3 separate regions of the Homo sapiens genome follow, and all the other regions are linked to region 2. Evidence: fine-mapped expression QTL. A gene starts in region 2. Each other region holds a variant in brackets. All regions are shown on one strand. Distances are between the middles of the regions.

Region 1 (8,176 bases), 23 kb before region 2:
GGCGCCTCTCTGGTGACATCCCATGATGAGAAGGTTTCTAAGAGGAGAACCAAGGAGAGAACACTAGGGGGCCGAGAGGCAGGGGGCGGCCAGGGGCAAACGCCCAAGCTAGCGCTTCTCATTGCCCGGGGTGCGCGCGCCTGACTGCTGTCCTCTCATCTCAGCTCTCGGGGCCGCCTGGCAGCAAACAGGGGAGGCTGATGACATGCAGCCGCTTCCTGAAGACCCCCTCATGCGGAGGTGGCCAGCACATCACTATTCCAAGGAAAAGGATGTTCACTCCACGCAAGCTCAAACTGACACTCTTTAATAGCGACGTTTGCTAAAATCAGGAGGACTTTGTACCTTTATGAGGAATTTTTCATTTTCTTCCTGGCTGGGTTGATGTGGAAACCAGAGCTGTCTGTGGAGCTGTTTTCCAGACCCCAGGCCCATTCCTGGGATCTCTCCAACAGGACCTGTCCTGTGTTCTGGGCTTGTCTCGGGTCTGACCAGGAGATGGAGGATGTGTCCTTGGCAGAGCCAAGGGGAGACAGAGGTTTCTGGATGCCATGACAGGCTGTCGGGGTCCAGGTGGCACTCATGGGCCCCCTGCCCCATGTGAATGCTGCTGGCACCTGGTGGGGGGTTGCCCAGGGATGGACCCTGGGCATGGCTTCTGGGCTGCTTAGTCCAGGGGGAGCAACTTGTGGCCAAATCCATGAGTTCAGAGGAAAAGGGGAAGGCACTGAAACGTCACCAGAGAGACAGCTGTTGAGACCGCTCAGAAACCCTCTGTCTGTCACACTCTGCCCTGGCTGCTGTGTGGTCAGGGCACCATGAGGGTGTACAGATGTGCTGTGTCCTCAGAGCCTCGCAGGTGCCCTCACTTACTGCCTGGGCCCCTGCCCAGCAGCCTCAAGGACAGGCCTTTGTCCCTCACGGTTGTGGACAGGAGGTCGCACCACTGGCCTGCGAGAGCCTCTGGTGGGCCCGTGGCTTCCCCCAGTTATCTGCTAAGGAAAACTGTGCTCTTCGAAGGGCAGAGCCAAGAAGTCAGCCCTGACTTTTGTAAAATTTTACTAAATAAAACCACCTGGATAAGCCTGTTGTCACTGGTTCATCAGCTGGGGGGACTGATACCTGAAATCCTGTCCCCAGGGGAGGCCTGAAGTCTTAAGCAAGCAGCCACCCTGGCTGTCTCTTTTCCTGCCAAGGCCACACAGGGGACCATAGCCTCCATGTCACTGTGGTATCAGTGCGATGTGCACAGTGATGGGCAGGAGTTTCCATCATGAGGGAGGAGGAAGCAGATGTCCCTGCACAAACCCTGGCCTCGGCCACCCAGCTGCATAGCCAGCACCATGTTGCACGTGGCTCTAGGTCTGTGATGAGGAGAATTCCTTTTTGTTTGTTTGTTTCTGGGTACCACATGGTTTGGAAAGCTGCCTTTATTTTTCATTTTCAGCCAGGGGAAAGTGGGAATTTAGAGACTGTTTTTCTAACACACAGCTTCCTTCAAAGGCACTGTCTTTTGGGCCCTGCCAGCAGAGCCCCTCCAGGAGATGCCCTGGTTTCCTAACCTTTAAAAGTTAGACTTTAACAAGCCAAAATACTCCATCCTGCTCCTCCCACTCCAAGATTCGGGTTCAGACTGTGCCATGGCATCATGGTGTCACCCATGGTGGCCCTTGCTCCTCACCTGGCTGGATGTTGGTGACCCACAGACCTCAGAAGGCCAAGCCTTTCTTCTGACTTCCCTGTGGCCTCACAGGAACCTCAGAAGCAACAGGTTCCAAACCTGACTTCTGTGGCACCCACTAGAGAAGAGAGGCCCTGCTGCTCTCGTCCCCAGAGGGGAGTGAGAGGAAGAGGCCCCTCAGAGTCAGGTAAGGAGGGACCAGGCGACGTACATGCAAACCACTTGTCCACTAGTGCGGCTGCCAAGCCCCCAGGGTCTGGAGGACCCTGCAACAGGCAAGTCCAAAGCTCCCTGGCCTCCCTCAGGTCCACACTGAGTGCTCAGGAAGAAAGTGCCAAAAGCTGGGAGTGGGGGCAGGGAGCTGACGGACACTCCCTCGAGAACGCCCCTCTCACAGATATGCTGGGATTTTTGTTCCCAAAGTCTGGAGGCCCAGCAGGGGAGCTGGGACAGTGGGCGGGAGGCAAGCCCCCAAAGGCTGAGGAAGAGGCTGCAAGACACCCCGGGCGCAAGGCGAGGGGCTGGAATGGAGAGCAAAGGAAGCCTCCAGTGGCCAAAAAGGACGGCAGTCCGGCTGAAGAACGGAGAAATCATGCAGCCCCCAAAGCCAGTGGCTTGGCTGCGACACACAGGCTGATGTCCAGAATCACTGTGCTCAAAGCTCAGACCCCACCGAAGCCATGCCCTGATGCCACCCTCAGGGCGTCTGAAGGCCTAACTACAGCTGCAGAGAAGTCCAGAGCTAGCTCAACTACCGGGAAGGACAACTCTGTTCCCACTCTGGCAACCTCACAGTGGAAGGCACGTGCCCCTCTGTGGAACTAAACGTTGTTTGCTTCAGCCTCGATTGTTCTTTTATATGAACTGTCTAGCCTGCAGTAAGACATTACAAGACACATGAAAAGGCAAGAAAACGTGAGCCACAGTGAGCAGTAGAAGCAGAGTCAGCCCCAGTGGTAAAACTGAAGTCAAGGGCTTTGAAGGAACTCTGGGGAGGTGGGGAGGGCCTGTGGAAATGGCGGGTGACATTCACCAAGAGATAGGGATGTTCAGCAGAAACAGGGACACTTCAGTAAAAGACAGAATGAAGATGCTGCAAATGAAAAATACAGTATATAAATGATCTTTAGATGGGTTTAACAGCAGACTGGACATCACAGAGGAATGGATCAGTTAACTTGAAGATTGGTCACTAAAGAAGATCCAAACACAGAGAGGGGAGGGAAGACGACAGAGGGTCCAAGATCTGTGGGCCAAAGTCAGATGGCCTAACTGGGTGTAACTGGAGTCCCAGAGCAGGAACAGGAGAGAATAAAGAAGAAATATTCCAAGACCGAATCACTAAGAACTTTCTGAAATTCATGAAAGAAAATAATCCACAAATCCAAGAATCTCTGTAACTGCAAGGAGGTGACGTGGAGAAAACCGTACCTGAACACATCCTACAGGCCTTAAAGGCAGCTAGGATGGAAACAGGAGATTCATATAGAGAAGCAACGATAGGAACAATGGCTCACTTCCCACCAGAAGGCCACGCACGCACCCACATCTGCGGTGCTGAAGGGAAAAGGAAGGTCAACTTAGAAGTTCACATACATTGAAATATTCTTTAGGCTGGTCACAGGGGCTCACACCTGTAATCCCAGCACTTTGGGAGGCTGATGCAGGTGGATCACCTGAGATCAGGAGTTTGAGACCAGCCTGGCCAACACGGAGAAACCCCATCTCTACTAAAAGTACAAAAATTAGCCAGGCGTGGTGGCGCATGCCTGTAATCCCAGCTACTTGGGAGGCTGAGACAAGAGACTTACTTGAACCTGGGAGGGGAAGGTTGCAGTGAGCCGAGATCACGCCATTGCACTCCAGTCTGGGCAACAGAGTGAGACTCTATCTCAAAAAAATAAAGAAAGAAAGAAAAGAAAAAAATATTCTTTAAAAATGAAGGCATTATCAGCCAGGATACAGAAACCACACCAGTTATCTGAAGAGGAAAAAATGTAAAGAATTACTAGGCCCGGTATGTGGTTCATACCTGTAATCCCAGCACTTTGAGAGGCCAAGGTGGAAGGATTGCTTGAGGCCGGGAGTTTGAGACCAGGCTGGGCAACATAGTGAGACCCCCATCTCTACAAAAAAGTAAAAAAAAAAAATTAGCCTGGTGTGGTGGCGCTCACCTGCAGTCCCAGCTACTCAGGAGGCTGAGGTGGGAGGATTGCTTGAGCCCAGGAGTTGGAGGCTGCAGTGAGCTGTGATCACACCACTGCACTCCAGCCTGGGCAACAGAGTAAGACCCTATCTCTTAAAAAAAAAAAAAGAATTAAGTAGTAAAAGTTGGTTAACTACTAAAAGGGTCTTGGTTTGGTTTGGCTTGGGTTAGAGACAGGGTCTTACGATGTTGCCGTGCTGGTTTTGAACTCCTGAGCTCAAGCAGTCTTCCTGCCTTGGCCTCTCTTTTTGTTTTTTGTTTTTCAATAAA[GACTT/G]ACTTAATAGGCCCTGAAGTAGCAGGTGCGGGAAAGCAGCTTCTCTGGGTTGGCGGTGAGGTACAGTGAGGAATTAAGGCCTGGCCAAGGCCCCCTGCCCTCCCAGGCTGAGACGCAGGCCTTTCACAGTGAGTGTGGCTATATAGGAACAGGCCTAGGCAAAGGAGCTGAGCTGGAGCTGGTCTGCAGGGACAGCTGGCAGGACAGGTGCCCCCAGGAGCACCCTACTGGAGTGGCTCAGGAGCAGAGCCAGTGCAAACACGGGGCATGCTGGGGCCCATCGTGCCATGCTGGGCTCCTGTGCCAAATAACACTGATGGAGGACCAGACCCAAGAGGGAAGCCCCTCTCCCAGCCAGCTACTGCCGCTTCCCAGCTGTCTGCAGTCAGTGCTGAGTAGAGAGTGGTGCAGAGCCAGCCGTTTCTGCCCACCTCGGCCTCAGATGGACACTCTATCCAGGGCCCATGGGTGTGGCAAAGGCCCTTCCTCCCACAGATGCCAGGCTTGCATTGAGGCTGACAGCTTTCCTCTGCCTGCTCCTGCTTTCTAACCCTTTTGTCCTTCATAAGTATTTCCCCAAATAAACTTCTTGAATGTGTAAATCTGTCCTGGCCTTTGATTCCTAGAGGCCCTGAAGGAACGTGACCATCACCTGACCTGAGTGACACTGCAAAGCCCTCATTCTTTCTAGTGGACGTGGAGCTCTCTCCAAGCAGATAACTGAGCCGTCAGCCACATCAGAGGCCAGGGACATGGCCTTCAGAGGCTTTGGCCATCATGCAAAAAACCTGGCCACCCTGAAGCCTCTATGCTGGAGAAATGTCTGCAGTGATCCCACAGAGATGCTGACAAGATGCCCAAGGACCCAGCTGCTGGAGCTTTCCGGCCAGCATGCCAGCCCTGGGAGGAGGGAAGCCTTCAGGGTGGGGTGCATCCAGCTGCAGCTGCTGCCTGACAGCAGTGGCCTGACAGATCCCAGCAAGAACCACCCGGCTGAGCCCAGCCAAGCCGTGGCATGAGATCATGGCAGTAACAGATGGTAGGTGCTGCATGCTGTGAAGCTAGTGATGGCAGCTACACAGCAGGAGGTCATGAAAACAACACATGTCCAGATAACCAGTGGGTCCATAGAGGTCACTGGAAACTTAGTAATTGAAACTGAATAATGAAAATGGCACTGATCAAAATCTGAGTGAATGCAGTGCATAGAAGGAAATTTATAGCTTTAAATGTTTATATTAGAAAGTAAGAAAAGTACAAAACCACCTAAGATTTCATGTTAATGTGCAAGAAAAAGAGCAAATTAAACCAAAAGTAAGCAGAAAGAAGGAAATAAAACTGAGTGCCAAAATCAACAAAATGGAAAATGGCAGAACACTAGGAAAAAGGGATGGTCCTAAGTGAAGACGTAAGAGCATGTGATGTGCAGCTCTCGCATGACTCCTGATTCAAACAAACCAAATGTAGAGACAACTTCGAATAACACACAGCGAGGAAAAGCAGGCAGCCTCTGCCCAACACAGCCAGGAGACAGCCTCGGAAATCGGAGAAAATATTTGGAAACCATATGTCTGATAAGGGGTTAATATCCAAAATACATAAGGAACTCAAACAACGTAACAGGAAGAAAACCCAGATAACCTGATTGAAAAAATAGGAAAAGGACCTGAACAGACATTTTTTCTTTCTTTCTTTCTTTTTTTTTTTTGCTGTGTCGCCCAGGCTGGGGTGCAATGGTGCAATGTTAGCTCACTGCAAACTCTGCCTCCTGAGTACAAGTGATTGTCCTGCCTCAGCCTCCCGAGTAGCTGGGACTACAGGCGCCCGCCACCATGCCCGGCTAATTTTTGTATTTTTAGTAGAGACAGGGTTTCACCATGTTGGCCAGGCTGGTCTCGAACTCCTGACCTCAGGTGATCCACCTGCCTCGGCCTCCCAAAGTGCTGGGATTACAGGCGTGAGCCACCGCGTCCAGCCAAGCAGACATTTTCCAAAAATATATATATATCTATTTTTATATATATACACACACACAAATGACCAACAGCTATACAAAACCAATGCTCCATATCAGTAATCATCAGGGAAATGCAAATCAAGACTGCAATAAGATACCCCCTCACACCTGTTAGGATGGCTATTCTAAACAGATGAAATGTCGGTGATGGTGTAGAGAAATGGGAATGCTTGTGCACTGTTGGTGGGAGTGTAAAGTAGTACCGCCGCTATGGAAAACAGTATGGAGGTGTCTGAAAAAGTTAAAAATAGAACTACCATATCATCTAGCAATCCCACTACTGGGTATTTATCCAATGGAAAGGAAATCAGTATGTTGAAGAGATACCCGCACCCCCATGTTTATTGCAGCACTAGTCACCATAGCCAAGCTATGGAACCAACCTAGGTGTCCAACAACAGATGAATGGATAAAGAAAATGTGGTACATACGCACAATGGGATACTATTCAGCTGTAAAAAAAAAAAAAAAAAAAAAATGAAATCCTCTCATTTGCAACTGTCTAGATGAACCTGAAGCATTTATGCTAAGCGAAATAAGCTGGTACAGAAAGACAAACCCCACGTGATCTCACTCATACGTGGAACCCAAAAAGTCAAACTCGCCAGGTGTGGTGGCTCATGCCTGTAATCCCAGCACTTTGGGAGGCCAAGGCAAGAGGATCACGTGAGTCCAGGAGTTTGAAACCAGCCTGGGCAACAGAGTGATACCTCATCTCTACACAAATATAAAATAAAGGCCGGGGCCTGACATGGTGGCTCACGCCTGTAATCTAAGCATTTTGGGAGGCCGAGGCAGGCGGATCACCTGAGGTCAGGAGTTCGAGACCCTCCTGGCCAACATGGTAAAACCCCGTCTCTACTAAAACAAAAATTGGCTGGGCATGGTGGTGTGTGCCTGTAGTCCCAGCTACTCGGGAGGCTGAGGCAGGAGAATTGCTTGAACCCAGGAGGCATAGGTTGCAGTGAGCCAAGATCGGGCCACTGCAGTCCAGCCTGGCAACAGAGCGAGACTCTGTCTCTAAATAAATAAATAAAATAAAATAAAGGCTGGGCATGGTGGCTCACGGCTGTGATCCCAGGACTCTGGGAGGCCAAGCTGGGCAGATGACTTGAGGTCAGGAGTTTGACACCAGCCTGACCAACATAGTGAAACCCCGTCTCCACTAAAATACAAAAATTAGCCGGGCGTGATGGTGCGTGCCTGTAATCCCAACTACTCAGGAGGCTGAGGCAGGAGAATCACTTGGACCCGGGAGGCGGAGGTTGCGTCGAGCCAAGATCGTAATCCCTGCACTCCAGTCTGGGTGACAGAGCGAGACTCTGTCTCAAAAAAAAAAAAAGCAAAACTCAACCCAAGAGATTGAGGCTGCAGTGAGCCATGTTTGCGCCACTGCACTCCAGCGTGGGTAAGAGCAAGACCCTGTCTCAAAAAAGAAAGGGGAGTTCACAGACGCAGAGTAGACTGGTGGTTGCCGGGGGCTGAGGGCTGGCTGGGGAGATGGTGGCCAAAAGATGCAAAATTTCAGTTGCAAGGAATGAGCTCGGGGATCTCTTGTACGCAGGGACCGTAATCAGTAACAATGGATTACATTCTTGAAAACCACTAGGAGAGACTGGCTACGGTGGCTCACGCCTGTAATCCCAGTACTTTGGGAGGCTGAGGCGGGTGGATCACGAGGTCAGGAGTTCTCGAGACCAGCCTGGCCAACATGATGAAACCCCATCTTTACTAATAATACAAAAATTAGCCCGGCGTGGTGGCACATGCCTGTAGTCCCAGCTACTCAGGAGGCCGAGGCAGGAGAATCGCTTGTACCTGGGAGGTGGAGGTTGCAGTGAGCCAAGATTGCACGACTGCACTCCAGCCTGGGCGGCAGAGCAAGACTCCGTCTCAAAAAAATAATAATAAAACCACTAAGAGAGTAGATTTAAGTGTTCTCACCCCAAAAAGTGACAAGTATGTGTGGCAGTGCATATTAATTAGCTCGACTTAGCT
Region 2 (8,176 bases):
AACCTCCACCTCCTAGGTTCAAGCGATTCTCCTGCCTCATCTTCCCTCAACTTCCCGAGTAGCTGGGATTATAGGCGTGCACCACCACGCCCAGCTAGTTTTTTGTATTTTTAATAGAGCCGGGGTTTCGCCATGTTGGCCAGGCTGGTCTCGAACTCCTGACATCAAGTGATTTGCCCACCTCGGCCTCCCAAAGTGCTAGGATTACAGGAGTGAGCCATCACACCCAGCCACAAGCATTCTTTTAGGACTTAAACAGCCCGGGCACAGTGGCTCATGCCTGTAATCCCAGCACTTTGGGAGGCTGAGGCAGGCGGATCACCAGGTCAGGAGATTGAGACCATCCTGGCCAACACGATGAAACCCCATCTCTACTAAAAATACAAAAGATTAGTCAGGTGTGGTGGCACGTGCCTGTAGTCCCAGCTACTCGGGAGGCTGAGGCAGGAGAATTGCTTGAACCTGGAAGGCGGAGGTTGCAGTGAGCAGAGATTGCACCACTGCACTACAGCCTGAACAACAGAGCGAGACTCCGTCTCAAAAAAAAAACACACACACACAAAAAAAACACTTAAAACAAGTTGAATGTATACGATCTGGTGTATTCTGACAAAGGAATGCAACTCAGCAACATACCTCAATGATTTATGCAACACGGATAAATTTCAAAACATTATGCTGAATAAAAGCAGCAAGACACACACAAAAATATGTACCGTAGGATTCTATTGATCTGAACCTTCAGGACAGGCAAAGCTAATCTAAGTTGTGAAAACACAGAAGGGTAGCCACCATCAGGGTGGGAAATGCTACAAGGGGCCAGAAAGAATCCTCCAGGATGATGGAGATTCTCTCTCGCCCCTTGTAGGACTTGTGTAACCCAGGGACCTGCATAGATGTGCCTGGGTTACACAAGTTCTACAAGGGACGAGAGATAATCCCCATCATCCTCCACTGCATCTCATCCCATGCACAGATCCCATTCTGGTACCAGGAGAATATCCCTGTTCAGTCACTTCAAATCATTCCTCTCCAATGTTCCAAATCTCCAGCAGCTGTTAATTCTGTGTTGTACCCAATATTTTAAAATGCTGACAAGTTTATTACTATTAATACAAAAAAGAGTAAAGCTCACAGGTGCTTTTTACAGTCACGTGACCCCAAAGAGCTGTCACCCAGAACATGTGTTCAGGAGTGAAGAGGATAAGGTTGGGCCCGGAGAAGCTGGCCTGTGAGGATCACCCTGAATTGGGTTATATCTGTGTTTGGGACAAAGTCAGCAAGAGCATGGTCTTAACCAGCCCCGAGGGATGCCTGGGCTGGGCCCAGCTCCCTGAGGGCCTCCTGTGTGACTTCTGCCTGAGGCTGCTTAACTCCTTCTAATATGGAATGAGAAAGGGCCCTATACCATACCGGTGGGGCTGTGGAGCCTAGCTCCCTGCTCAATTTTTTTTTTTTTTTTTAAGACAGAGTCTCATTCTGTCCCCCAGGCTGGAGTGCAGTGATGCAATCTCAGCTCACTGCAACCTCCACCTCCCAGGTTCAAGCGATTCTCCTACCTCAGCCTCCCGAGTAGCTAGGACTACAGGCACGCGCCACCACACCCGGCTAATTTTTGTATTTTTTGTAGAGACGGGGTTTCACCATGTTGGCCAGGCTGATCTCGAACTCCTGAACTCAGGCAATCCGCCCATCTCGGCCTCCCAAAGTGCTGGATTACAGGCGTGAGCCACCATGCCTGGCCCCCTGCTCAGTTTTGAAGCTCTTTCTACACATCTAGTTAAATGCCTAAAATCCCACCAACTCCACAGGTTGTTACCGGGACAGCCAAGCCCTCAGTCAACTCCCAGCACTGCCCTCAGGCTTCTAAACCAAGCACCGACCAGACAGAGAAAAACGAAGAGGGCCAGACGGACTGAGGACATGTCCGACATGGCAGGTGGAACAGCCAACAGGCCACTAGGGACAGAGCAACCTAGGCCCACCGAGGCAGAGGCCAGCAGGGAGCAGCCCCGCAGTGCTGCTCAGGCAAGCAGAGTACAGCTCGGGGACTGGTCCTTCACTACAGCAGCAGTGGCCACACCTTCGTGGCTGAGCAATACCACGAGGCTGGCTGAAAACGCAGATTCCCAGATTCTGATCAGTAGGGCTGGGACGGTTGGGGACAGACTCAACTCTGACCTAACCTGTCACCTTCACAGCTGGACTTGCAGCCACTTCAAAGTTTCGGGTTTTTAAGCAAATCATCAACAATTTCCATTCCTCACACATCAGATAAGCTTTGAAATACTTTATCGGAAAAACAGGGAGAAGAGGAGCAAGGTCTGCAGTCTTGAGTACTGAGTGGGAGCTCCACCTTCCACTACAAGTCTCCTGGAGGCTGTTCATGAACAATTACTGTTATGTTAATTTCAGGTATTTGGTTTTTTTTGTTTTTTGAGACGGAGTCTCGCTCTGTCGCCCAGGCTGGAGTGCAATGGCACGATCTCGGCTGAGACCTCTGCCTTTCTGGTTCAAGCGATTCTCCTGCCTCAGCCTCCCACATAGCTAGGATTATGATTACAGGCATGCGCCATCACGCCCAGCTAATTTTTGTATTTTTAGTACAGACGGGGTTTCACCACGTTGGCCAGCTAGTCTCGAACTCGGGACCTCAGGAGATCCACCCGCCTAGGCCTCCTCTCAAAGTGCTGGGAGGTGTGAGCTACCGCGCCCAGCCAATTGCAGGTACTTTTGTTACTTGGAACGAAACACACTCCTTCTTTTCCCTGAAAACATGTTCCAGTGGCAAGTTGAGGGAAACTTCCTAGCCCCTTTTCCAAGATACAGCCTACTACTCTTCCTAGAAAAGGGGTGTAACTCACTTTGTATTCTGGATTTCCACCCTAATTATAAAACACGGTGACACTTGAAAATAGAGTGGTTGTACGTAGAAAGTTGATAAAACGTAAGTTTTGTGAACAGGCAATGTTTTTCTGTGGCTCGCTTTGAGAGAACGGTTATCTGGGTCCCGCCGTCCCGTGCGTCCCACACGAAGGCCACAGGAGAAGCGAGGCAGCGGAGACCCTCTATTCCAGCAAGCTGTCGGAGCCTTTGCCACGACGATCCTGTTTGCGGGGCGAGAAGCGTCTGAAGACGCGGAGGGAGGCTTGCGTCTGACTTCTGCAAGTGTCTCGGGGACTTTCCCTAGTCCCACCTCGCACCGCCGGAGGAGCCCAGGGAAGACGGCGCTGGCCGACCCGCCCGGGGTCTGGGCCTCCTCCCACATCCGCGGCCCTCTCCGCGGCCGGGCTCCGACAGAGGGGGCTGCGGCGCGCCTGGCGTTCCCTCCGCTGCAACTAGAGCCGAGGTACGGGAAACGCCGCTGCGTACCCCAGCCGGGCCCTCGTGAAGCGGCTCCCGCGTGGGGCCGCCCGCAGGCCTCGGCAAAGCCCCAGCTCCGCGCTCCGCAAGGAACGCAGACGGCGGCCCGGGCCCCTCTGTTCCCCGGGCCCCCTCAGCAGCGGCCACCCCGCGGGGGAACCAGCGCCCAGGAGGGCGGCGAGGGCGCCGCGGCAGCCCCAGCGGTGGTCCCGGGCGCCGCCTCCGCCCCGGACCCAGCGCCAGGAGCCACAGACTCCGCGCACCGCCCCCAGGCTCCTCCGCGCCCTGCAGCACAAAAGTGCACGCCGCCGTAGACGCCCTAGCGGTCCGCCGGGCCCGCTCACCTGACCCGCGAGGCCGCCCGCCGGGTCCTCTGCTCAGCCACCGCCACCGCCGCTGCCGCCAGCTTCCCGCCGCTGAGGAAGGAGCGCCCGACGGCGCGGGGCGGGGCGAGCGACCGCCACTCGGCGTCCACAAAGGGTCGACGCTGCGCTCTCCGCGCGCTACGCCCGCTGATTGGCCACTCGCGGGCCGGGGGCGGGGCCTCTTGTTCAAACCCACGCGGGCGGGGCATCTGTGGCGCGTCTTCCCGCGCTGCGGCGACGGCCGTTGGGGCTCGCGCGCGCCCTCGGTTGCCCCGCCCCCGCCCCTGCGCCCGGCCCCGCCACGCCCACGCCCCGCCGGCTCCCAGGTCTCCCCGCGCCCAGTCCGGCCCCGCCCCGCCAGCTCCCAGGTCTCCGCGCGTCTGGCCCTGAACTGAACGCGCCTGCGCCTGGGGCCCACGTGGGGCCCTCGGGCGGGCGTGGCGGGGCAAACAGAGGTTTGGACTCTCTCGCTTCTGCCTGGCTCAACTTCTCCGCCGAGGCATCCGTGCCGGGGTCGGGAGGAGCCGGGCACGGCAATTCCCGGGCGGTCTGGGCTCCGAGGTCTATCCAAGCCTCTCCAGAGACCGGGGTTATCTCCAAAGGCTTCCTAGGTTTACACGTAAGAAATGTAACGTGAAAGTTCAAAGCAGGGGACACGTGTTTTAAATCTCTTAGTGGAAAAGGTTTTAAATAGGATGCGAGAACCTGCAATCATTGACTTAAGTAATACCCTGAGCGCCTGCAGCAGGCCCGGCAGGCGTGGCTGCAGCTGAGAGCCAAGTGCTGGAAGTTGGGGGGGAATCCTCAGATCAATCCGCAGGTGCGGATGCGCCAAGGTCGGTGGTAAATGCTGAAATGCTGTCGGGAAACCTGGGAGTGACGTGGGGGCGCTGCTCACATAGGTCTCTAGGATAAGGAGCGTCTTAAAGCACCAAAAGGAAGAGTGGACGAGAATTCAGGAGAGGAATGGCTGGGGCAAAGCCCGAGGCAGGGGCAGGAGGCAGGAGCACGTCTCAGTGCAGTGAGAAAGAACCCTGTGATCTCGTGGGAAAGTTTTAAGTGTGAGGGGTGGAGGGACTTTTGGGCTATTCTGGGAGTGGGATGGAGACTACTGGCATGGTCAGCAGAGAAGGAACTGGAATCTGAATTGTGCTTGAAAAGAATCACTGTTCTTATTTAAAAAAAAAAAAAAGGGGGTCTCTTTCGCCCAGGCTGGACAACAGTGGCGTGATTATGGCTCACTGTATCCTCGAACTCTTGTGCTCGAGTGATTCTCACGCCTCAGCCTCCCAAGTAGCTGGGACTACAGAAGTGTGCCACTACACCAAGCTAACTTTTTTTTTTTTTTTGGTAATTTTGTAGAGACAGGGTATTGTCTTGTTACACAGGCTGGTCTCCAACTCCTGGCCTTAAGTGATCCTCCTACCTTGGCCTCCCAAAGTTCTGGGATTACAGGCATGAGGCACCACAACCACCAAGAATCACTGTTGGTAATAGATTTGGAGGAGGTGGCAGGAAGGCTGGAAGTAGAAAATCCCATTAGGTTACTGCCCAGGTAAAAGAAAATGGGACTTGATAAAGGTGACTACCTGAGAATTTAAAGTTTATGCATGTCAAAGTGAAAAGACAAATGGGGAAAAAAGTTTTTCCTGGCTGTATCCCACATAAAGGTTAAATTCCTTAATATACAGATATTCTGCAAATGCAAATGAAATCTAGATCACCAAAGAAAAGTGGTTTGGAAATAGTGGCACCCACCTGTAATCCCAGCTACTCAGGAGGCTGGGGTGAGAGAATCCCTTGAGCCCAGGAGTTGGAGGCTGCAGTGAACTATGATTGCACCACTGCACTCCAGCCTGGGCAGCAGAGTGAGACCCCATCTCTTAAAAAAAGAAAAGAAAAGTGGGCGTAGAATATAAACACAGTTCAGAGCAAAGAAAATACAAATGCTCCTATACAGGCGAATAGATGCTCAGCCCCAATCAGAACAAGAGCAGTGGAAATTAAAGCTATGCTGGAGTGCTGTTTGCCACGGGTCAAATTGGCAAAGATCTAAAATAATGTCTGGAGTAAGATAATATCTTCCAGAGCATATTAGTCTATTCTCATGCTGCTAATAAAGACATACCCGAGACTGGGTAATTTATAAAGAAAAAGAGGTTTAATGGACTCGCAATCATGGCAGGAGACAAAGGAAAAGCGAAGGGACGTCTTACACGGCGGCAGGCAAGAGAGCGTGTGCAGGGAGCTCCCCTTTATAAAACCGTCAGATCTCAGGAAATGTATTCACTATCCGGAGAACAGAACAGGAAAGCCTGCCCCATGATTCAGTTACCTCCTGCCGGGTCCCTCCCACGACATGGGAATTATAGGAGCTACAATTCAAGATGAGATTTGGTGTGATATTTTGACATGTATATACAAAGTATAATGATCCATCAAGGTAGTTAGCATATCCATCACCTCAAACATCATTTCTTTTGTGTTGGGAACATTCAAAATCCTCTCCTCTACCTATTAGAAAATATGCAGTAAGTTACTGTTAACTGTAGTCATAAAATATTAACAGGCTTGCTAGGACATAGGACCAGAAAAAACATAGAAGTCTATGGTTACACCAAGATTGGAGTCATATTTTTCAGTAACTAATGTATTCAGGAAAATTGATGACAAGGAGAACTAGAATCCGTTAAAAAAAAGACTCAAATTGAAGAAAGAGCATCAGTCTTACACAGAGTCTTCCAAATGATAAAGGGGAACTCTTCTTACCAATTTGTTCTACAGGGCTAACAAATTTGATACTAAAACTCGAAAGGGACATGATGGGAGAAAACACACATGGTATTCTCTCTCATGAACATTGTTTAAAATTCCAAACCACATATTAGCAAATCAGATCCAATGATAATGTAAAAAAGGTAACTCATCACAACCAAGTTGGGTGTACTCCAGGAACTGGAGTACAGTTGATTTCACATTGCAAGGTCAACATGATTCATGACAATAGAATGAAGGAGAAAAAAAGTATGAAAATCTCAGTGTAGAAGCATCTAGTAAAATTCAACACCCCTTCATGGTATAATCTTTAGCAAACTAAATATACAAGTACAAAGTTAGGGACAGCCCCAAGACCACCCTCAAGTTTGAAATTCATTAGAAGGACTCAGAGAATTCCCTAGAAGCTATTGTACTCGTGGTTATGGTTCATTACCATGAAAAGGCTCATTAAAATTAACCAAGAGAAGAGGTGCATGGGGCAGCGGCCAGGAGAGGCCATGCGGAGACTCCAGTTGTTCTCTTAGTGGAGTCATAGTGGTATTGCTGGTGAAAATGTGTCACTGGGCCTGAGTCCAGAGTTCATTTACTTCCCAAATGAATATATACATTTATTCTATTGCCAGGCAAAATCCCAGGATATTTTTGAAACCTCACAAAATGCTATTAAAAATCTAGAGAAATGGCCGGGCACAGTGGCTCATGCCTGTAATCCCAGCACTTTGGGAGGCTGAGGTGGGCGGGTTACCTGAGTTCAGGAGTTCGAGACCAGCCTGGCCAACATGGTGAAACCCCGTCTCTACTAAAAATACAAAAATTAGCCAGGCGTGGTGGCATGTACCCGTAATCCCGCTACTCGGGAGGCTGAGGCAGGAGAATTGCTGGAACACAGGAGGCGGAGGTTGCAGTGAGCTGAGATTGCACCACTGCATTCCAGCCTGGGCGACAGAGTGAGACTCTGTCTCAAAAAATAAATAAATAAACATAAAAAATAAAATAAAAATCTAGAGAAATACATGTGGAAGGCTACCCTATAGATAAAGTAAGAAAAAAGAAAAGTATTAAGGAGGACACCCACCTCTATATCAGTTACCTTTTGCTGTGTGACACACTTTCCCAAACTTAGTAGATTCAAAAGGCAGCCTTTTGTTTGCTGGCATTTCTGCGGTTGGCATTTCGGCTGGGGTCACAGCATCCTGTGTCTCATGAGGCATCAGCTGAGCTCACTCAAGTGTTTGGGTCTTGGCAGAGATGACTGACTCATCTCTGCTCTGTCATCCTCCGGAAGGCCAGCCCAGGCAGGCACCAATACAGGGGCTCTTTTTATACTTCCCTCTGCTCTGCTCATATGTGCCAATGTCCAGGTGGCCAAACCACATGTGGCCAAGCCTAGGGCCAGTGTGGACACGAGAAGACAATTCCCTGGAGGACATTATTATTGTTACTATTATTTTGAGACAGAATCTCACTCTGTCGCCCAGGCTGGAGTGCAATGGTGTGATGCTCTCAACTCACTGCAACCTCTGCCTCCTGAGTTCAAGCGATTCTCCTGCCTCAGCCTCCCTAGTAGCTGGGATTACAGGCGCCCACCACCATACCTGGCTAATTTTTGTATTTTTAGTAGAGACAAGGTTTCACCATGTTGGCGAGGCTGGTCTCGAACTCCTGACGTC
Region 3 (8,176 bases), 22 kb after region 2:
ACCCGATAGAAGATGCCAGTCAAAATAAACCGCGTTCCTGAGACACAGGCCAGAAATCAAACCAAAACCAGTTAAAACAGTTCAGTTCCTGAAGGCCCAGGGACTATCGCGGAAGAGGCGGGTGTGTGGATTGTAAGGGGTGATTTTGAGAGATAAGTTAACCATTAATGTTGAAGGCACACTGATGTAAGCCCAGCATATGGGCCTCTGTGTCGGATTAACAAGGTTTTCTTGGAGTATTAACCCAGTCCTTAATAAAAGGTTATAAAAGGCTTATGGAAATTGTATTTTATACTCAACATGATTAAAATTGTATAGATTGGGCTAGGTGCAGTGGCTCATGCCTGTAATCCCAGCACTTTGGGAGGACCGAGGTGGGCGGATCACTTGAGGTCAGGAGTTCAAGACCAGCCTGGCCAACATGATGAAACCCCATCTCTACTAAAAATACAAAAAAATTAGCTGGGCGTGGTGGCGTGCAACTGTAATCCCAGCTACTTAGGAGGCTGAGGCAGGAGAATCGCTTGAGCCTAGGAGGGAGAGGTTGCAGTGAGCCAAGATCCCACCACTGCACTCCAGCCTGGGTGACAGAGCGAGACTCCGTCTCAAAAAAAGAAAAGAAAAATTGTATAGATTGTCGTGCACTTGGTTTCTCAAGTCGCCCACCTGGCCCTCTTCCACGTGTGCTTTCCTTCCCTTCATTCCTGTTCCAAAGTTCTTTAATAAACATTCACCCCTGCTCTGAAACTTACCTCAGTTTCTCCTTCTGCTTATGCCCATTGGTCGAATTCTTCTGAGGAGGCAAGAATTGAGGTTGCCACAGACCTGTACGGATTCACTGCCAGTAACTCAGATACCTTTCACCAGTAACATGTCAATGGAAAGAATCAAACTCTGTAAAACATTTGAAGAGATTTATTTTGAGCCAAATATGAGTGACCATGGCCTGTGACACAGCCGTCAGGAGGTCCTGAGAACATGTGCCCAAGGTGGCTGGGGTGCAGCTTGGTTTTATACAATTTAGGGAGACACAGACATCAATCAAACACATTTAAGAAATACATAAGGCCAGCCGGGTGCGGTGGCTCACGCCTGTAATCCCAGCACTTTGGGAGGCCGAGGTGGGCAGATCACAAGGTCAGGAGATCGAGACCATCCTGGCTAACACGGTGAAACCCTGTCTCTACTAAAAATACAAAAATTAGCCGGGCATGGTGGCGGGCGCCTGTAATCCCAGCTACTCGGGAGGCTGAGGTAGGAGAATCGCTTGAACCAGGAAGTCGGAGGTTGCAGTGAGCCGAGACCGTGCCACTGCACTCCAGCCTGGGCAACAGAGCGAGACTCCATCTCAAAAAAGAAAGAAAGAAAGAAATACATAAGGCCGCGCACGGTGGCTCACGCCTGTAATTCCAGCACTTTGGGAGTCCGAGGTGGGTGGATCACCTGAGGTCAGGAGTTCAAGGCCAGCCTGGCCAACATGGTGAAACCCTGTCTCTACAAAAATACAAAAATTAGCTGGGCATGATGGCAGGCGCCTGTAATCCCAGCTACTTGGGAGGCTGAGGCAGGAGAATCGCTTGAACCCGGGAGGCAGAGGTTGCAGTGAGCTGAGATTGCACCACTGCACTCCAGCCTGGGCGACAGAGTGAGACTCTGTCTCAAAAAAAAAAAAAAAAAGAAACAGAAACACATTGGTTTGTTCCAAAAAGGTGGGACAACTCGAAGCAGGGAGTGGGGAGCACCTTCCACGGGTAACACATCACAAGGAATTTCCTTGTGGGCAATTTGTGTGGGAGGTATGTAGCTTTTTAATCTTTGTAGCTGTCTTGTTTACAAATAGGATTGGAGGGAGGTCTGCCTGCCAGCAGTTCCCAGTTTGACTTTTCACTTTGGCTTAGTGATTTTGGGGTCCCCATATTTTCCTTTCATACTAGCAAATACCCCAAAACCTTCCCACACCCCCGTGGCCACAGTTACTTTGCTGTTCTTGGTCTCAAACTCCTGGGGTGCACTCTTTCTCCACCAGTGGTGTGATCATGGCTCACTGCAGCCTCAATCTCCCGGGCTCAATCCATCCTCCCACCTCAGCCTCCCGAGCAGCTGGGACAACAAGCGCACACCACCATGCCCAGCTAATTTTTGTATTTTTGGTAGAGGCAGGATTTTCCTATGTTGCCCAGGCTAGTCTTGAACTCCTGGACTCAGGCGATCTTTTCACTGCAGCTTCCCAAAGTGCTGGGATTACAGTCATGAGTCACCATGCTGGCCTCCTGAGGCCTTTATGTACCTATGGGCTTGCCAGCCGTCCTCCACCCTCCTCTCCTCTCCAAGCCACTGGGGGCCTTGGGCCAAACTTTGTGGGCCCTGCCCTGCCCTGCCCAACCCTTGCACTTGCTCTTCCCACCAGCCCCTCCTCGTGAGCCTCTGTGCATCCCTCCTCTCCGCCCCCTCCCAGTGTTGCAGGGCTCCGGATCCCAGCCCTCACACCGCCCCTCTGTCACCGCCTACTCCCCAGGCGCCTCTCCAGTCCTGGATTAAACGCCATCCACCCTGCACCAAAAGAACCAGGAGGCCACTGCGTGTCAGCCGTGCCCTTATTTTAAGCACCCCAGTTTAGGCCGAATTCTAAGAACATGTGCTCTCCCAGATTCCCCTGCGCCAGCCCCTGGAACTGGTGCCTCTGCGGAGGTGCCACTCCCAAGGTCGGGCGAGTTTACACGGCAGAGTGGAGCTTAACGCTAATTCCCAAGTGGGCCTGACCTAGTCCCGGGAGCCTTGAAAAGAGGACAGTTTTCTGTGGCTGGTGACAGGAGGGGGAGTCAGGGAGGTCCAAGCCTGGGAAGGCTTCAAGGTGCGGATGCTGGTTTGAAGACAGGGCGGGGGGCGTGAGAAGGAACATGAGCACCCCCCAGAAGCAGGGAGCAGCCATCAGTGACACCACAAGGAGGCAGGGACCTCCTCAGTCCCACACCCGGCTTCCCAGCGACAGGAGCGAGCTTGGAAGGGGACCCTGAGCTCCAGACCAGAGCGTGACCAGCTGCCGCCTGACTCCAGCGTAAGCAGAGACCCACAGACTGCAAGCTAAGAAAGGTGGGCTGCTTGAAACCACGCAATTTGTGGTAACAGGAGAGGAAGACCACCAGCTACCTGAGGCTCCTCCGAAGCACTGGGTTCCTCCTGCAGCCTCTTTCTTTCACCTCCACCTCCCATCTGCCCGCCAGCGTCCTCGGCTCCACCTTCACACACATCAGGATCTACCCACCTGCAACCGCCCGCGCTGCTGCCCAGTTCGGAGGCTCACCTGCACCCTTGGGCCGCCTCCAGATGCTTGTAGCTCTTCCTGAGTATCCAGGCACTTCCACGACAGCCAGCGGGCCCTTAAATGCGAGTTGGCTGCATTGGCCTCTGCTCAGGAGTCCCCGGCACAGCCGTCTCAGGTGCTCAGAGGGAACTCCATTGTCGATGCCTGGCTTCCTGGGCTCTTGCTCCCCGTGGATTCTCACCACTTCTCGAGCACCTGAAGTGCTCCCTGCCCTGGGCTTTTGCCCTGCGCCTGACCCAGACCAGCTGCAAGGTTGCTCCCCACTTCCACTGGTCTGGTCTCAAAAGCACCTGCTCAGAGAGGCCATCCATGGCCCTGTCTGCAGCCCACTCAGCCCTTCCCAGCATAGATGACCCTGGCACGTTGTATACTGGTCTTGCTAATCTTCCTAAGAAAGCAGTGACCTGGATACAGTTATTGTCTCCATTTTCCAGATGAGGACAGCGAGGCACAGAGAGGTTGGGTCACTTGTCCAAGGTCCCAGAGAGTAAAGGGCAGTGCTGGGGTCTCAGCTCAGGCCCTGGGGTCCCAATGTCCACACGTGAATCCTCAGCGTCATGCATGTGTCTCCCTCCAGGCAGAGGGCAAATTTGCTTGCTGTCCAAGATAATAAAGATGGCTTCTCCCTCTGGGCAGAAACTGGGCAGGTTTGCTAGCAGTCCTTTAAATGACTGGTGTTTCCTAACCCAGGGTTCCTTAGCTGTGTGTACAGCATCCACCGGAGCCACTCCTCATTGTCCGTGGGGCTGGGGGGCTGGGGGGAATATGAAGCTCGTGCTGCCTGCTGTGCTGTGAGTAACAAAGTCTTTGTCTCAGACCCAGGTGTCTCATGTCTTGCCCATGTTCAGAACACTGGCAGGCTCACTGTTCACTTGCAAACAGAGGGAACTCTCAGACCATTCATTTCTTCCTTTTTCCTACTTCCCCTTTCCCTCCTCCTTGAGGGCCAGCTTTTAACCTGCCAAGGAGCCAAGAAAGAGACGTTGGAGAGGGCTGGGGATTGCACAAATAAGTAAAAGCATCGGGGATGAAGGATTTGAGGACTCTCGTTTCGGAGAAGGGAGTTGCAAATTAGGAAAGTGGTCAGACTGGACCAACTTCTGGCTGGGTGGATTGAAATTGGAGATATCAGTACAAATCCAGTTCCAATATGGATAGCTGGAAATACAGATGTATATCTATGTGTGTGTATATATC[T/C]ATGTGTGTGTGTATAGGCATATGTATTTTCTACAGATCTGGAAACAGTGAGCACCCCTAGTGCCCAGATCTTGGATTATTATTATTATTATTTTTTGAGATGGAGTTTTGCTCTTGTCGCCCAGGCTGGAGTACAACGGCGCGATCTCGGCTCACTGTAACTTCTGCCTCCTGGGTTCAAGCGATTCTCCTGCCTCAGCCTCCCGAGTAGCTGGGACTACAAGCATGTGCAACCACGCCCAGCTAATTTTTGTATTATTAGTAGAGACGGGGTTTCACCATGTTGGCCGGGCTGGTCTTGAACTCCCGACCTCAGGTGATCCACCCACCTCAGCCTCCCAAAGTGCTGGGATTACAGGTGTGAGCAACTGTGCCCTGCCTTCTCTACCATTTTGTGACACAGAATGAAAGTCCTCACCAGGGCCATGCCCTTGAACTTCTCAGCTTGTAGAACTGTGAGCTAAGTAAACCTCTTTTTTTTCTGATAAATTATGCAGTCTCAAGTAATCTTTTATAGCAAGACAAAATGGACGGAGACCCGCACATACACACATGAGAGAGAAGGGTAAGCCTGACCTCATAGTGGAAACCTCAAATTCTCTCCCCAGAAACGGTGTAATAATTGCTTATTCATTAATGAATGCAAAATGCTTACTAATTAACTTTTCAGTGGGGAATGGCGGCAGACACCATCATACCCAAGCGATGAGGGTTATCATCACCAGCGATGGCCAGATTGGCCCCGTGGGCCTCCGGTAGGTTGCTGTAAGAGGAAAGTCTCACTTCTGAGGGGTTCCTCCTGGAAATGAAGAAGCCACAGGAAACAGGCAAGGCTAGAGCGAGGGCCATCCCACAAAGACCCATAAGACCCACAAAGACTCACTGAGACAGCGGGGAAATTGGCAGGGGCTCTGCGGAGTCGATGGGGACATTGGATCAGTGGTGGCTTCCTGATTTTTCAAGGTTCACTGCAATTACTTGGGAGAGAGTTCGTTTATTTCCAAAATACTCTCTGAGCTGTTTAGGGGAGCAAGCCTGGAGTCTGCAGCTTATTCTCAAATGCCATATAAGCAGGAGCGAGAGAAGGAATAGCGGGGCAATGTTCACAGATGGCGAATCTGCAGGACAGGAATATCCGGGTCTCTTTGCACGGTGTTTGCCACCTTCTGTAAATTGGGATTTTTTTTTTTTTTTTTTTTTTTTTTGAGACGGAGTCTCACTGCAACCTCTGACTTCCTGGTTCAAGCGATTCTCCTGCCTCAGCCTCCCGAGTAGCTGGGATTACAGGCACACGCCACCACGCCCAGCTAATTTTTTTTTGTATTTTTAGTAGAGACGGTGTTTCACCATGTTGGCCAGGATGGTCTCGAACTCCTGACCTCGTGATCTGCCCGCCTCGGTCTCCCAAAGTGCTGGGATTACAGGCGTGAGCCACTGCGCCCAGCCCCAAAATTGGGAATTATTTCAAAATAAAAAGCTGGATAAATGCATACACACAAGGCAGTATCGCGTATTTTCCACGAGTGCCTGTGCAGGCAGGTAAGGATTTAGGAAAGGTCTGGAAGGATGTGCAAAATGTTCCGCCTGCGAAGGTTCCGCGGTGGCGGGGACACTGCTCCGGCTCCGCTCCCGCCCGCCCGAGCGCTCGGATGGGGCCGCCTCTGCACTGCGTGGCCACAGGCGCGGCCCGGCTGCCCACGGGCGCCCTTTGCAGCTGCTGCCCCCTGGCGGCCGCGGGCGGCTACTAGCGGGAAAGCGAAACCCGCCCGGTCCATTCAAGCCCCGCTGCCTGGCGCCCTCTAGGGTCGTTCTTGGGAACGGGCGGACCTTTCGTCAACACTTTGCCTGCAAGATCCCCCATTGGGGGAACCGAGGAGGAAGTTAAAGGAAGATGTGTGTTTTTGAGCGCTGCTTTGTGCCAGGCTCATCTTAGGTGTGGGACGTGTACTATCTGAATTAATACCCCACCAGGCCTGTGGGACAGTCACTGTCACCATTCGCAAATTATGGATGAAGAAAGGAGGTACCAAGTGGTGGTATCACCTGTCCATAGTGAGCTGTCCCTCAGGAGGGTGGCCGCCCCACGCGACCATTCAGTGTGCTCTCATTCACACGTTCATTACCCAAGAGCACTGCTAGCACTGGGGGCTGGCTCACTCCTGCGATCCCAGCACCTTGGGAGGCCAAGGCAGGCAGATTGCTTGAGGCCAGGAGTTCAAGACCAATCTGAGCAACAGTGAGACCCTGTCCCTATAAAAAATGTAAAAATTAGCTGGGCAGCTGGGCATGGTGGCACATGCCTGTGATGCCAGCTACTCAGGAGGCTGAGGTGTGAGGATCGCTTGAACCCAGGAGGCAGAGGCTGCAGTGAGCTGAGATTGCACCACTGCACTCAACTCCAGCCTGGGTGACAAAGCAAGACCCTGTCTCAAAAAAAAAAAAAAAAAAAGGATGGATGTGGTGGCCTATGCCTGTAATCCCTCCCAGCACTCTGGGAGGCTGAGGCAGGCAGATTGCTTGAGTCCAGAAGTTCAAGACCAGCCTGGGCAATGTGGTGAAACCCTGTCCCTAACAAAAAAAAAACCAGCTGGGTGTGGTGGTGCACGCCTGTGGTCCCAGCTATTCAGGGGACCAGGAGGTGGAGGCTGCCGTGAGCTGAGATCATGCCACGGCACTTCAGCCTGGGTGACAGAGCAAGACTCTGTCTCAAAAGAAAAAAAAAGTCCTCCATATGTGGTCCCCCCTCATGCTGTCTCTTCCAGGCATGTCCTCCCACATGCCAGGAGGCTGCAGGGCCACCAGGATGTGACCTCCTTGGGCTGTGCTCCCCTGCCCCAACTCCAGGCAGTAGGATCCCAGAATTCCCAACAAAACTCTCCCTGCCTCCCTGGCCTATGCGGCCTCTCCCTGGGCTGTCGCTGTGAGGCATCCACAGCCCCTGCCATGCCAGGCAGAGTGGGGATGGTCGGAGGGGAGCGGGTGTGGACGGGACACAGGGCCTTCCGGAGAGCCTGAGGTGCTGCTTCTGAACTGCTCCTTCCCCTGGTGTGCAGGTGTCTTCGTCACAGTAGGACCTGGGAGAACAGTTCCATAGGTCCGGGGGCTTCTCTCCAGCTGGCGAGGAGGTGTGTGGTCCTCTCTCCCTGTCACCGTTACTCAGGTAACGACAGGGCAGTGAGCAGAGCAGTGTTGCCCCTCCTGGACCCTGTCTGAAGAGGCAACTGTGGCTAGAGGCTGGAGGGCAGGGCGGCAGGGCATGGTGCTGGAGGCAGGGGTGGCCCTCGGGGCTCCCCTCCTCATTCCCGCCTCCCTGCGTGGGTCACAGCGGCCTTCACTGTGGCCTCCTCACTACCTGGGGTGCCCCAGGAGCACCTCGTGGAGGGAGTGCCTGAGTGAGGTCAAGCGGGGCGGAGGAAGGGGTCGATGGTGAGAGAGACAGTGAGTGAGCCCAGACTCCACACAGGGCGGCCCCTAGCGCTGGCCACCTCAGCAGCTCCCACCAGCAGCACAAGCTGGATGACAGGGCCAGGGCCTGTGGTCAGTGGTCAGTGGCTGATGACAAAGCCATGCTGTGACCCTCTCTCACTGCCAGAGCAGACGCGGGGCGGTGAGCAGCCAGGCAGGCCCGTAACCTCCACCTCCCCAGCTGCGCCCGTC

Alleles and levels. Positions count from the first base shown, and alleles are read on the strand shown. Sizes are in standard deviations (SD) of each study's normalised expression. Not every link is listed here.
As copies of T replace C in region 3, the expression in monocytes after R848 of the gene that starts at base 3,792 in region 2 goes up (moderate effect, 0.69 SD a copy in Quach 2016).

Evidence for each region.
Region 1: its variant is fine-mapped to the expression of CDCA4 in blood mononuclear cells (TOPMed, PIP above 0.99).
Region 3: its variant is fine-mapped to the expression of CDCA4 in monocytes after R848 (Quach 2016, PIP 0.95).

Annotation. Positions count from the first base shown.
Region 1 is chr14:104,994,434-105,002,609 of GRCh38, forward strand. It overlaps CLBA1 (clathrin binding box of aftiphilin containing 1), which reads left to right. Exons shown (of 5, transcript NM_174891.4): 5 at 165-1,083. The coding sequence ends at 326. Among named protein-coding and RNA genes, the nearest start is that of CLBA1, 13 kb to the left of the region's middle. The variant GACTT/G (reference allele first, on the strand shown) is at 4,158.
Region 2 is chr14:105,017,292-105,025,467 of GRCh38, forward strand. It overlaps CDCA4 (cell division cycle associated 4), which reads right to left and starts at 3,792. Exons shown (of 2, transcript NM_017955.4): 1 at 3,708-3,792. RefSeq lists enhancers at 1,857-2,517, 2,969-3,484, 3,999-4,512, 4,528-4,587 and silencers at 3,138-3,227, 3,238-4,127, 4,158-4,227.
Region 3 is chr14:105,039,619-105,047,794 of GRCh38, forward strand. All of the region lies in intron 1 of LOC124903398 (a long non-coding RNA gene), which reads left to right. Among named protein-coding and RNA genes, the nearest start is that of GPR132, 22 kb to the right of the region's middle. RefSeq lists a silencer at 6,073-6,332 and an enhancer at 7,868-7,967. The variant T/C (reference allele first, on the strand shown) is at 4,520.